Regions from separate parts of the Homo sapiens genome. Here all the other regions are reported to be linked to region 1. Evidence: microRNA targets listed by miRTarBase, many of them from high-throughput screens and not tested one by one. Region 1 holds a microRNA gene; each other region holds the end of a gene's coding sequence.
The links. Region 1 holds the annotated microRNA hsa-miR-510-5p (UACUCAGGAGAGUGGCAAUCAC, at 1,123-1,144, opposite strand). A microRNA usually pairs through its seed, bases 2 to 8, with sites in the 3' UTR of a target mRNA and lowers its output. Matches are read on the target gene's strand: a 7mer-m8 pairs with bases 2 to 8, a 7mer-A1 pairs with bases 2 to 7 and ends in A, and an 8mer does both.

Region 2: miRTarBase lists ZNF891 as a target of hsa-miR-510-5p. Seed matches in the 3' UTR shown: 8mer at 1,332-1,339.
Region 3: miRTarBase lists SRGAP1 as a target of hsa-miR-510-5p. Seed matches in the 3' UTR shown: 8mer at 1,962-1,969 and 8mer at 3,035-3,042.

The regions. Positions count from the first base shown.
Region 1 is chrX:147,271,256-147,275,499 of GRCh38, forward strand. It overlaps MIR510 (microRNA 510), which reads right to left and starts at 1,153; the gene lies at 1,080-1,153. LOC105373347 (periphilin-1) reads left to right here. Exons shown (of 4, transcript XR_005647084.2): 4 at 1-640.
Region 2 is chr12:133,116,526-133,120,769 of GRCh38, reverse strand. ZNF891 (zinc finger protein 891) reads left to right here. Exons shown (of 2, transcript NM_001277291.2): 2 at 1-4,244. The coding sequence ends at 486. Among named protein-coding and RNA genes, the nearest start is that of ZNF891, 12 kb to the left of the region's middle.
Region 3 is chr12:64,141,920-64,146,163 of GRCh38, forward strand. SRGAP1 (SLIT-ROBO Rho GTPase activating protein 1) reads left to right here. Exons shown (of 22, transcript NM_020762.4): 22 at 376-4,244. The coding sequence ends at 753. Among named protein-coding and RNA genes, the nearest start is that of KICS2, 78 kb to the right of the region's middle.

The sequences.
Region 1 (4,244 bases):
ACCTTGGCAGACACCCCCTTCCCATCCTCTAATAATGTAACTGCTTAGCTGGGAGGGGTTGACATGCCCCCAGTGGGGTTCCTTAATAATGGCACACATTGAACTGAGGTGCCAAGTAACACTACATATCTCTCCTTGATTGGAAAAGAATAATAGTGACTATACTAATGTTTGACTTATGTTATTTACTAATTCTAGGATGCAAAGCCGGAACACGAGCTGTAACCGCTGCGCCTGTCAAATCTGTCACTGCACACATCTGTACTATTCAATCAACAAAACCCGATGCTAAAAACAGAAAAGGGGGAGACGCGGGAGATCGGTCAGAGTGGTAGGAGAAGGTATAGGGAAAGGAACAGACCTTCTGAAAGGCGGGAAGGCTCTGGATAGCTTCAGGGATGAATAAGCTGAAGGCAGCTGTTCTCTTACCCTGAGGCAGAGGGCAAGGGGTAGGTAAGGAAGTATAGGGGAATTTGGCATAAACAGGCTTGTTTACTTACATTGTCCGGAAACCGACTTTGATCATCAGGGCAGGAGACTGCTCCCTGAAAGGGGGAATAATAATGTTAATTACCCACAGATTGTGTTGGCTCCAGGCTTTCATTATTTTGTCTGTACTGAATAAAAGCAAGCAGCTCCAGCTGTTCGAGACTGCTCACTCTTCAGCCATTAGTGCTGGGCATTCCTGTAGCTGCTCTTACACTGCATGCCTGTGGCTGAGTACTCCTTTCATCCGTTGCTTGGCCAGGGTCTGTGGGATGGACCCCGCAGGTAAGGGTTATCAAAAAAAAAAAAAATTCACAGGCAGATAGGAACACCATGACCATACTAAAAGGCTTTTTTCCCATTTTAGTCTTGCAAGTTTGTAAAGAAGGATATGAAGCCCCTAAGAAATCAGTGAAACACTTTTTCCCAAAACCTTTATTTCCTATGTCTTGTCTTCAGAAGTTTATCTAGAAACTCCCCAGCTAGTTTAGTATTGAGGAGGGTACCAGATGGACTATCTATGTGCTAAGAAAAGCATACCACTGCATGCAACTAAATATCTGCAATATCATTGCATATGTAGTACATGTCATGTGTTACTCCACTCTTAGAGGTTTCAATCACACCTAATTACATGTGATTGCCACTCTCCTGAGTAGGACACCACACACATACACAGCATTCCTGAAAATGGGAGCACAGCCTAAATACTTAATCACACACTTTTCAAACAACCTCTCAAATGTTTTCAGTCTGTAAGTGGCCGTTGGCATTTATGTAAATGATTCCTGAAGAACCTACATCATTTTTTATTCACTCATTCCCCCTTGAGTGTTGTCCACTCATGGTTTGGAGTTTTCACATGGCAGTTTTCAGGACTAAGAACCTTCCTGCTAGGCTCTCCTGCTAACGGGAAAAATCTCATTCGATGCCTTATTCTATTTCTTTTCCCATTGTTTTATATAAAGTATTAATGAGTAGATTGCATTCCCCAGATTCAGTAGCTACCCAGACACTACACTCTATCTCACCAATCTGTGCCTATCATCCAAAGATCTGAGTTCTTCTACCTGAGTTCCTTACTACAACTCCTCACTACAGAATAAGCAAGGACATCACACAGGATCCTGGAAGCAAAGAAGAGAGAATAATCAGTGAGTGGTAAGATGGAGAGAGTAGAATTTCTTTTATCCTCATCAAATTTTGAAGTGAAAAAAAAAATCCCATTTTACTTACCAGGAGTGATCTACAAAACAGAAATTGTGCTAGGCACCCAGACACTCTTAGAGATTTTTCAGTTTCTGGGTTTTCTTCGTCTTTTCTGGGAGCAAGGTTCTTTTTAGCATGTGTTTGCATTTTTCCAATCTGAGACACATGCTACTAGGTGACTGTGTTTCCCTGCAAAACTAAAATTAGCACACACAAAAATATGGACACAATTTTGGTGACTGGATTTCAGAGACTGAGAACTGAGAATTTAAAGTGACTGTGGCTTACAAAATTACCTGTTCCCCTATCTCCTAATCAAGAGCAACAATATACTTGTGGGTTTAAGAAGCCTCCAGAATTTCTCATCCACTCCACAAACCCAGTTTAGTGTTTCAGAGGCTAAATACTAGGCATGTGAGGTTAGAGGTCAGGGGCCTGCTACTATAGCCATTCTTCATCACAGGGTTTAGGCTCTATACCAGGTGCAGCCGGCGGAGATAATTGAGTACGTAATACTCCTCATCTCAGCTTAATCATCAGGGGGAGCTTCCACTTTGGGTGAGGCAAACCAGAACACTAGAATCCACTGCTATCACTCATCACCCTGGTTGTAAAGCAGGGGTGTCAGTGTACAAGAAGCAGGACACTGCCTTATTCTCAGCTTGGGGCAACTGCTCAGGGATTTGTCCATTGAGAGAGGCTAGCCCTAAGAGAAAAAGCATTAAAGCTTTCCTTCTCAAAAGAAAATGACTTCAGTTGTAACAGAAGACAAGAAAGGTCTCACAAATAATGTAGACTGTGGTGCCAAGTAATTAGGATGGAACTGGAATCAGGAAACAGACAGCTAATAAGAGCCTTTCTGGTAGGAGAATAGCCTTTAGAGACCTGCCCCAAAAATTATCTGCAAAGTATTTGGATAAGACTCTAAAGCAATTTTTGCCCATGGTATTCTCAAAAGCTACAAAATAATCCACCTGCAAACACTGAAGCTTATTACCTGTGTGTGATACCGCAGAGGCAGGCAGCTTAACAGAAAGAGCAGCAAAAGAACAAAGAACTCTACTAAAATCACGACAGTTTAGAGTGACTGTGTACATATCCAAAGTTATACCTTGCAAGGAACAACATTAGGTTTTCACAATAAAAAGAATATAGATTTTACTAAAACAGCACAGCCAAGTAAATCAACAAATAAAAAAATCAGACAACAACAATCCCCAGAAGCAAGATCTGCATCCAAAACTTCTATAATATATTAATAAAATATCCAGTTCTCAACTGGACATTCTCAGACATACAGAGAAAATAAAAATATAACACACAGGACAAAAGTAGATTACAGAAAATGCTGGCAACAGAGCCTAATGTTATACTTAACAACAACCTTAAAGCATCCACTGTAAGTATTTTCAAAACACTAAACAAATGGTGCTTGGAAGAGTAAAGGCAGCTATGTTGACAATGCCTCATCAAAAGAGTCTATCAATAAAGAGGTAGAAATATTTAAAGAAAAGGAATTTATGGAGTATAAAAGTAAAATAATTGAAGTGAAAAATTCACTAGAAGGACTCAGGAGAAAAAAGAATCAGTGAACTTTAAGATACCTTGAAAGTGATAATTCTATAAAAATAAAAGAATAAAATGAGTGAAGAAAATGAACAGTGCCTCAGAGAAAGGCAGAACACCAGCATGCACATCAAAATACGCATATTAAGGTAGCAGAAGTGAAAGATAGAAAGGAGCAAAAAAGTATTTTTTAAAAATGGCTGTGAATATCTAAATTTGATGAAAAACATTTTTTATTATACCTAAGAAGTGCAAAACACTACAGGTAGCATAAACAAAAGAAATCCAAGCTGAGAGACATATCTACTTTTTGGTGACAAAAAAAGAGAATATTGAAATCTACTAGAAAAAATAAACTTAATGCATACAAGGGATCCTCTACAATATATTTCGCTGACTTTTCATTAGAAACCATAGAGGCCGGAAGACACTGGAATAACATTTATAGTGCTAAAAGGAAAACAGTCAACCAAGAATCACGTACCTAAATTTAGACACTCTAAGATATGGCATTAAAATGTAAACCATAAAATAACAAATGGTGAATCATCCTTTATGAAAATACAAAAAAAAAAAAGTTTGCTCTGTACAACACATGGTTAAGGGAATGCAAAAGTAAACCACAGACTAAGAAAAAATATTTGAAAATCACATATCTGGGCCGGGGACGGTGGCTCATGCCTGTAATCCCAGCACGTTGGGAAGCCAAGGCAGGCGGATCATGAGGTCAGGAGATTGAGACCATCCTGGCCAACATGGTGAAACCCTGTCTCTACTAAAAATACAAAAAATTAGCTGGGCATGGTGGCACACGCCTGTAATCCCAGCTAGTCAGGAGGCTGAGGCAGGAGACTCACTTGAACCAGGGAGTCAGAGGCTGCAGTGAGCCGAGATCGTGCCACTGCACTCCAGCCTGGTGACAGAGTGAGACTCCGTCTCAAAAAAAAACAGAAAAAAAGAAAGAAAGAAAAAAAATCACATAT
Region 2 (4,244 bases), not on the chromosome of region 1:
GCTTTCAGTCAAAAAACATCCCTTAAGGCTCACATGAGAACTCACACTGGAGAGAAACCTTATGAATGTAATCAGTGTGGAAAATCCTTTGGCACAAGCTCTTACCTTATAGTGCACAAGAGAATACACACTGGAGAAAAACTCTATGAATGCAGTGAGTGTGGAAAAGCCTTCAACACGAGCTCTCACCTTAAAGTTCATAAGAAAATTCATACCGGAGAGAATGTTTATGAATGCAGTGACTGTGGGAAAGTTTTCAGTGGGGTCTCATCCCTTAGAATGCATATAAGAACTCACACTGGAGAGAAACCCTATGAATGTAAGGAATGTAGGAAAGCCTTCAGTGTTTCCTCTTCCCTTAGGAGGCATGTGAGAATTCACACTGGAGAGAAACCCTATGAATGTATTCAATGTGGAAAAGCCTTCAGTCAGAGCTCTTCACTTATTATACACAAGAGAATTCATACTGAGAGAGAAACCCTGTAAGTGTTATGAATGTGGAATTGCTGTTTTCATTGTCTTAAGGTGGATTCCAAGCTCCTTGTCTCAGTCTTTGTTCTCTAAAAGAACGATTTAAGGTTACAAATGGCTCTTTTTTTAATATAACATTTTCTGTAAATACTAATTATGACTTTTTTTGATCCATGGCTGTTTAGAATTAGGTATTTTTAATATGTGAGGTAGGTATATTTTCAGTTATCTTTTTATTGTTGGTTTCTAGGTTAATTCCATTGTGTTCAGAGAATCTGGACTATATTTTACTGCTTTGTTGGTGTTTTTATAAAAGTTGTTTTCTGGCCCAGTGAGACTGGTATTGCTAGCAGCCAACCAAACATTTGAGCTCATCTTTCCTTACTAATGAATTCCATCTTAGCCAAGAACAATAAGGTCTCTGGTTATAGAACGCTTCTTTGACTTCTTGTAGCTAAGGGTAGCCATATCATTCATTCTTGCTGATTCAAAAATAGACATATCACTGGGATCAGAACTATCTATCTTGTCCTCTACTTTTTGCACTTCATCTTTGTCCCTATGAATTGGCCATTCCTGAAGCTGCTGAAAGAGCTATCTTGTGATCATGAAAATGACAGCTGTAGCCAAGGGATGAAGTAGAAGAAAGAGATCCCTGTTCCTCAAAGAAATCTTTAAATAGTTGTACCAGCCCTGCACTACTTGTATCTGGATATGTTCCTACATGAGAAAAATAAGGTTTTTTGTTTGTTTTTTGAGATGGAGTCTCGGTATGTTGCCCAGGCTGGAGTGCAGTGGCACAATCTCAGCTCACTGCAACCTCCACCTCCCAGGTTCAGGTGATTCTCCTGCCTCAGCCTCCTGAGTAGCTGGGATTACAGGCACCACCGCCATGCCTGGCTAATTTTAGTATTTTTAATAGAGACGGGGTTTCACCATGTTGGCCAGGTTGGTCTCAAACTCCTGACCTCAGGTGATCCACCCACCTAGGCGTCCCAAAGTGTTGGCATTACAGGCGTGAGCCACTGTGCCCGGCCAAGAAAAATATGTTAATTGATTTTTTCTTTTTTTTTTTCAATTTTTCAGACAGAGTCTCTGTCTCTCAGGCTAGAATGCAGTGGTGTGGTCATGGCTCATTGCAACCTCGACCTCCTGGGCTCAGGTGATCCACCACAGTCTCCTCAGTAGTTGGGATCACAAATGCATGCCACCATGCCTGGCTAATTTTAAAAATATATATTTTGTAGAGACAGGCTCTTCCTACATTGCTCAGACTGGTCTGAAACTCCTGGGCTCAAGCAGTCCTCCTGCCTTTGCCTCCCAAAGTGCTAGGATTCCAGGCATGAGTTACCATGCCTGGCTCTTACTGATTTTTTTTAAAGCACTACATAAATACAGTCAACGCAGTCACCATATTGTAGAAAAACAGAAGTATATACAGTTAAATGTTTTATGTTGGATGTACACATTTGAAGAGGAACATAGAAAAAAAGTATGGAAAAGGAATGTTGACCGAGCTTTTATGCTTAAGCAGCAGATGAAGATAGAACCAAGATCACTGAAAGCAAGTGTTTAGAACAGCAAAAAGAGTATCCCAACATTTCAGCATTGGAACTACAGAAAGTTTTCAGACAGAGGGGAAGTTACCAATTTTAAATGCTAAGTAAAGCATGAGATTTTGCTGCTTGATCTTGCAGATACTGACCAGATTAGTTCTAACAAAATATGGAAGGAGTGGCATACGGTGGAAGAAAGAAGGCAGTAGCTGCTGTTGTAGTTATTCATGTTAGCCTCAGAGGATGGTGAGACATCCAGATGAAGAGGTTGGTACGCAATTCTAGAATTGAGGAGGTGTCTAGATAGAGATATAAATTGTAGTGACATCAGTAAAGAGACAATAACAGGCTTTGGAAGGTGAGTAAGAATGAAAAGGGAAGGTCTGCCACCTACCCTGAAGACATACATTTAAAGGAACTATAGTAGAGAGATAAGAGGAAAACAAGAAGAGTGGAGTTTCACTGAACCAAGACAAACAAGTTTCAAAAAGGAAGGTGAAGTTGGCCAGGTGTGGTGGTTCACGCCTGTAATCCTGGCACTTTGAGAGGCTGAGGCAGGCGGATCACAAGGTCAGATCGAGACCATCCTGGCCAACATGGTGAAACCCTGGTTCTACTAAAATACAAAAATTAGCCGGGTGTGGTGGCACATGCCTGTAGTCCCAGCTACTCAGGAGCTGAGGCAGAAGAATCACTTGAACCTGGGAGGCAGAGGTTGCAGTGAGATGAGATCTCACCACTGCACTCCAGCCTGGTGACAGAGCAGGACTTCATCTCAAAAAAAAAAAAAAAAAAAGGAAGGTGAAGGTAAATGTTTTTAGTGTTACTTAGGGATCCAATTAGATGAAGTCTAAAAAGGTAAACATATACAGCCAAGTGAAGATCATTTGTGATTGTAGTTGGAAATAACATAGTGGTACATAATGAAGATGGTTGCTAGATTGGGCTGACTTTAGGAATCAATAAAGGGCAAAGAAGTAAAGACTGGATGTAGACAAGTTTGAATAATAGGAGAAAGGGTAGTAGCTGGAGAGATTTGGAGTAAAGAGATAATATGTTTAAAATATGAAAAACTAGAACATGTTTGAATTCTAATGTGATGAATGTAGTATGGTGAGGTTTAATATGCAGCATAATAAAGTTTAATATAAGCTTCTGAGAATGGGGTGTAGATGTTTAGAGCACAAACAAAAGTATTGGTGTTTGCCATGAGGCGGAGGGATACTCCCACCATTCTTTCAGGAGTAGAAAAATGGGTGGGTTGGTTTAAATTACTTGTTTATTTATTTACACCTAACTGTACTAAGCAGTGATCAGAATATGTGAACTATATAATGTTTTGTGTTTCCTAAGAACTGTGTGGCAGCCACTGCTAATTACTAACCAAATATATATATTTTTTATTCTTTATGAATAGATCTTCAGTTTTGCTAACAGTAGTATTGTATTTAGCTACAAAACTACTTATCCCAACCTCTTTGTAGCCTTGATGCCATTTCTACTGTTCCTGGCCAGTAAAATATAGATATATGATTATAGGTTTCATGGTAAGATTATCTGCTAAGAGGAAGGTGGATGAAATTCTGCAAGGAGGTTTTAGTGAAGAAGATCTCTATGTATTTGAAAGTCCTTCCAAGTTATCAATAGAGCCATCAGTGGAGAAGACAGCAAAGCAAGTAGCAAAGTCTATGTGATTGAGGAGAGGTCATTTAAATAAAAGATAGCAAGGAAGAGAGGGAGAAAGTGGTATAACTAGATGGTATGAACTTCAAAGGAAGGAGTGGTTTTCTCCAGGCTGCAATGGTTAGAAGCAGTGTTAGGGAGTAAGGAAGATACTGATCCCACTTCCAACCTGTGGATATGTGGAATACATGAGAATAAGCCCCCTTGTGATGTGATTGTTGTCAGGTAGGTGTTTTTTCCTTCCCAGGGAACAGCCAAGTTTAAATTAATGAAAGGAAATGTTCAGGGAAATAGTTGAGGATATTAAGGGAGTTTATTAAGGGAATCTCAGAGGGCACCATGAAAGAGTCTCCAGAAGGGCAGGGGTTTAGGGTTTCTGGCTTTGGCCTGAGGAATACAGAAGATTGTAATGACATTATTGATAGAGGAAAAAAGACCAGATCAGGGGCTATGACCAGTGAAAACAAAATTTAGAGGGAGTATAGGTTAAATCCCAGCAGTCTGTAAGAAGATGATGGGTATTTAGGTCTACTG
Region 3 (4,244 bases), not on the chromosome of region 1:
GGTCGAGGCCGTAGTGAGCTGATTCACACCACTGCACTCTGCCTGGCTAACAGAGTGAGACCCTGCCTCAAAAGAAAAAAATTTTTTTTTAAGTCAGCATGCAAGGCAGAGACCATTAGAAGGCTACCTTAGGGCCTTAGGAAGGCCATTGTTTGATACATGGCTCCATGAGCCATTATATCTCAGTTTCCTGAATCAAGAATCAAAATGATGATTGTGTGAGATGGCATAATGTTTACATATTCTGCAGACTATGGAGTCAAAGATATCCATACTCTGCTGGGCCGTTTACTTTGAAATTAAGTGTCTGGGTTTCTATACATTAGTATTCATTATCAGTCTGTGCTTTCTCTCTTTCCGATTATTCTTCAATAGGATATTGAAGAAACGATGAACACAGCTTTGAATGAACTCCGAGAACTGGAGAGACAGAGCACAGCAAAGCATGCCCCTGATGTGGTGCTGGATACCCTGGAGCAAGTGAAAAACTCTCCCACCCCTGCCACTTCCACGGAATCTCTCAGCCCTTTGCACAACGTTGCCCTCAGGAGCTCCGAGCCTCAGATTCGACGTAGCACGAGCTCCTCCAGTGACACAATGAGTACTTTCAAGCCTATGGTGGCACCCAGAATGGGCGTGCAGCTGAAGCCTCCAGCCCTTAGGCCAAAACCTGCTGTTCTTCCAAAAACAAATCCTACCATAGGACCTGCCCCACCTCCCCAGGGTCCAACAGACAAGTCATGCACAATGTAAAAACCAGCCAAGCAAGGCCATAAAGGGAGGTGACTTAAAAAAGAAAATGGATTAGTGACAAAAGTCACTGATCCATAACTTTCCTTAGTTTTGTGCTTATAACTGGAGATCTTTTGGCTTTTCTATGTTGTCGAATGTAATGTCTGAGACTAGCTAAATTAACACGGGCATTTGTATTTTGTAATTTTTTTAAATAACTGGACATATGTCATTTTAAGGACAATAGAAACACTTAGACTTACTTGAAAATCCAATGCTGCACCACTTGTAATGAAGGCAACACCGCTCTCCACATTGTACAGAGCTTCAGGTTTAATGTAGCCCAGCTGAGTCAGAAAGGTTGTGACCTGAAGGCAGAAGAACCCGAATGCCACACCTCATTGGAGTATAGCCAGTGTTGGTCTGTGGCACTTGGGCTGAAAGGTGATAATGGCATTGCGTGGTAGCTGACAATGAGCACCTTCGGTTCCATGTGGAGCGGGGTTTAGCTCATGCAAAAGACTTGCAATTGTCTCCATGGGACGATCCCAGTGGGACTGTCAGCCCACAGCTCGAGTGGGTTGGATGCTTGCCTCTTTCCTAACAGTTATTTCCCCGGGTCCAGCTTAAAGACTCGATGGAAGGAGGTAGAACCTCTGCTGTTACTGCTTGAACTTAACCTGGGAAAGGAGAGGAAGACACCATCTCCAAAGCTATTAATGTCACTCCTTTTGCGAGCATGATTAGGCCCCGGAGATTTCCAAGTCCCCCCATCTACACTTACAAACGATTAGAAGGGTTTAATTTTAAAGACTTTCTGGTTACACTACTCCACGAACTCCTCCAAAGATCCGTTATTCAATAACTGCCTAGAAAATGTTTCCATCTCCTCTAAATCCCTGTGTTCTCCTCTGTGGAAATGAAGGCAGCAAGAAGCACCTGAGGCCTTGGTTCATGCAGTGTTCTCTTTTGACTAAATCACCTAGGTTCCTTTAAACATGCTACAAAGCCCAGGCATGGTGGTGCACACCTGTACTCCCAGCTACTCGGGTGGTTTACACAGGAGGATGGCTTTGGGCCTAGTAGTTCGAGTCCAGCCTGGGCAGCATAGTGTGAGACCCTGTCTCTTAAAAAAAAAAAAAATGCTACAAAGTCCTGATGATCCTAAATTTGAAATCCCAACTGTCCTCTCCATTTGTCTTTGAGCCAACCCTGAACTGGCCCTGGTACCTGAGTAAGAGCCATGCAGGGCCATCAGCAGAACATGGCCTTGTGGTTCTCACCCAGTTGTGTACCTCACAACCACAACTTCTTTTTCTTTGTCCCTTTTCCCCTTTTTGGTTTTGGTTTTGTATGTGGGCTCTATGTAACTCCCATAGTCAGCTGAACTCTCAATTGGAGACCCTCTTTCTCTGGCATCCTAGCACACAGGCAATTTTTTAAGCCTATATTTATGCTACATTTTCCCCCATCTTAAGAAAATTTGCTTTGATTTCCATTCTCCTACTAGCAGCAGCTGATATCACCTGTAGACCTATGAGCATTTTATCTATTCTATCATTGAAGTTACTGATAAAGATTTTTGTTGTTGTTGTTGTTGTTGGGAGAAATGGATTTCCCACAACTAATCCCTCTGGCCCACCATTAATTTCCTTCTTGGTTTCATTTCAAACTGGCAGCCAATTGCACGCCCATCTAAGAGCTACACAGTGTAGATTTTACTTCATCAGCCCATTGGTGAATGCATCGTGCAGAAAAGAACTGGGATCTGTACTAAAATCAAGATCATTACTTTGATCTCTACCTCAGTTTGCCAGTGTAGTCATTCTATTGCAGGAAGAGATTAAATTGATGAGATATTGTTACTTTCAGAGTCACACTGCTGATTGCTTGCCTGGGGCCTAATTTCACAAATGAATAGTGACTTTTTTCCCATGTATTTCTAGGTATGGTAAACTTTTAAACCTCCAAATTTTCAGAGCCATACTTTTTGCCCATTTTGAAAAAGAAGCCCAGGACAGCACCTTGTCTAGCCCCTCCCCATTTCTCCTGAGCTTTTGGGGTCCTTCAGCACCCTTGGACACCGTGGAGATCCAGCCAAGACTGAGCTTTGAATAGCACTAGCCCTTTTAAACAATCCTCACAAATTCCTTAGGAATTTAAACTTTCCAAAATAATCCCCCACTTTTTTTTTTTTTTTTTTTTTTTTTTGAGTTGGAGTCTTGCTCTGTCGCCCAGGCCAGAGTACAGTGGTGCAATCTCGGCTCCCTGCAACCTCCATCTCCCGGGTTCAAGCAATTCTCCTGAGTAGCTGGGATTACAGGCGCCACCACCACGCCCAGCTAATTTTTGTATTTTTAGTAGAGATGGGGTGTCACCATGTTGGCCAGGCTGGTCTCAAACTCCTGACCTCAGGTGACCCACCAGCCTCAGCCTCCCAAAGTGCTGGGATTACAGATGTGAGCCACCATGCCCGGCCATTCCACCACTTCTTTAAAATAGTAAGAATTCTTAAAAACCATATTCCTTGTTTGATGGAAGAGTAAGATGTTAACAGAGGGCATCAAAGGGCCAGAGGTGTCTTTGAATTTATTTTTTTTCAATGTCTTTTCTGAGCTTCAGCCTTAGCTTTTCAGATCTTCCTCCTACCTGTTCATTTATTCAGCCTTCTATCTGGTCATCCTCCCCAGCGGCTCCTCTCTCTGATGTGTCCACCTACGGTGGAACGAGGATTGCCTTTCTGTGCTCCCCATCAGGACTTTGCTGTCTTGGCCGGCAGGAGTCGTGCTGCTGCAGAGCCTCACAGGCTGTGCCTTGTTTCAGGAAACAGCTCCTAATACTCTCCCATCACTCACTTTACCTGTCTCCATCTTATTTCCCTATACTCCTATTGTCAGCTTGAGACTTTTTTTTTTTTTCAATTCCAAATGAAGGGTATGACCTCAGAGTGAGTGAGGACTCAGTAAAGACTCACCTCTCCTTACTTGGTTTATTAAATGTCTTCAGATTCCAGAGATAAGACAAGGTGGCCACTTCACAAAGAATCCAGAATCATGCTCAGTAAAGCTCATTAAAAGCCACTGCAGCTGAGAAGGTTCACAGCCCTTCTTTATAGCCACAGAGGCAGCACACAGGGGAGGTGGGAAGACACAGGGAAACGAGAGAAGAAGGATAATGAGGCCTTGAGGTGTTCTGCCCCCAATTTCAAGGAGCTTATCAGGCTTCATGTGCAATTTGGGGAGGGGAGCTTTTTGATGGTGGGTAAATAATGGCTCTACAAAGATTACCTGACTCCACTGACACAAGAATATGTATTCTCAGCTGATATAACTGTGTGTTCACATCCCATCCATAGAACTCACTGAAGGAGATTCATCAAGTCAGCCTTTTGGACTGGGTTGGGGTTTGGGGAGTGGATTTGGGGATAGAGAGAAAGGTGTACTTAGTACACATTTTCTAATGGGCGTTACGTGAACTGTTTGAACCTGCTGAGTGGCGCTTTGTAGAGCTCC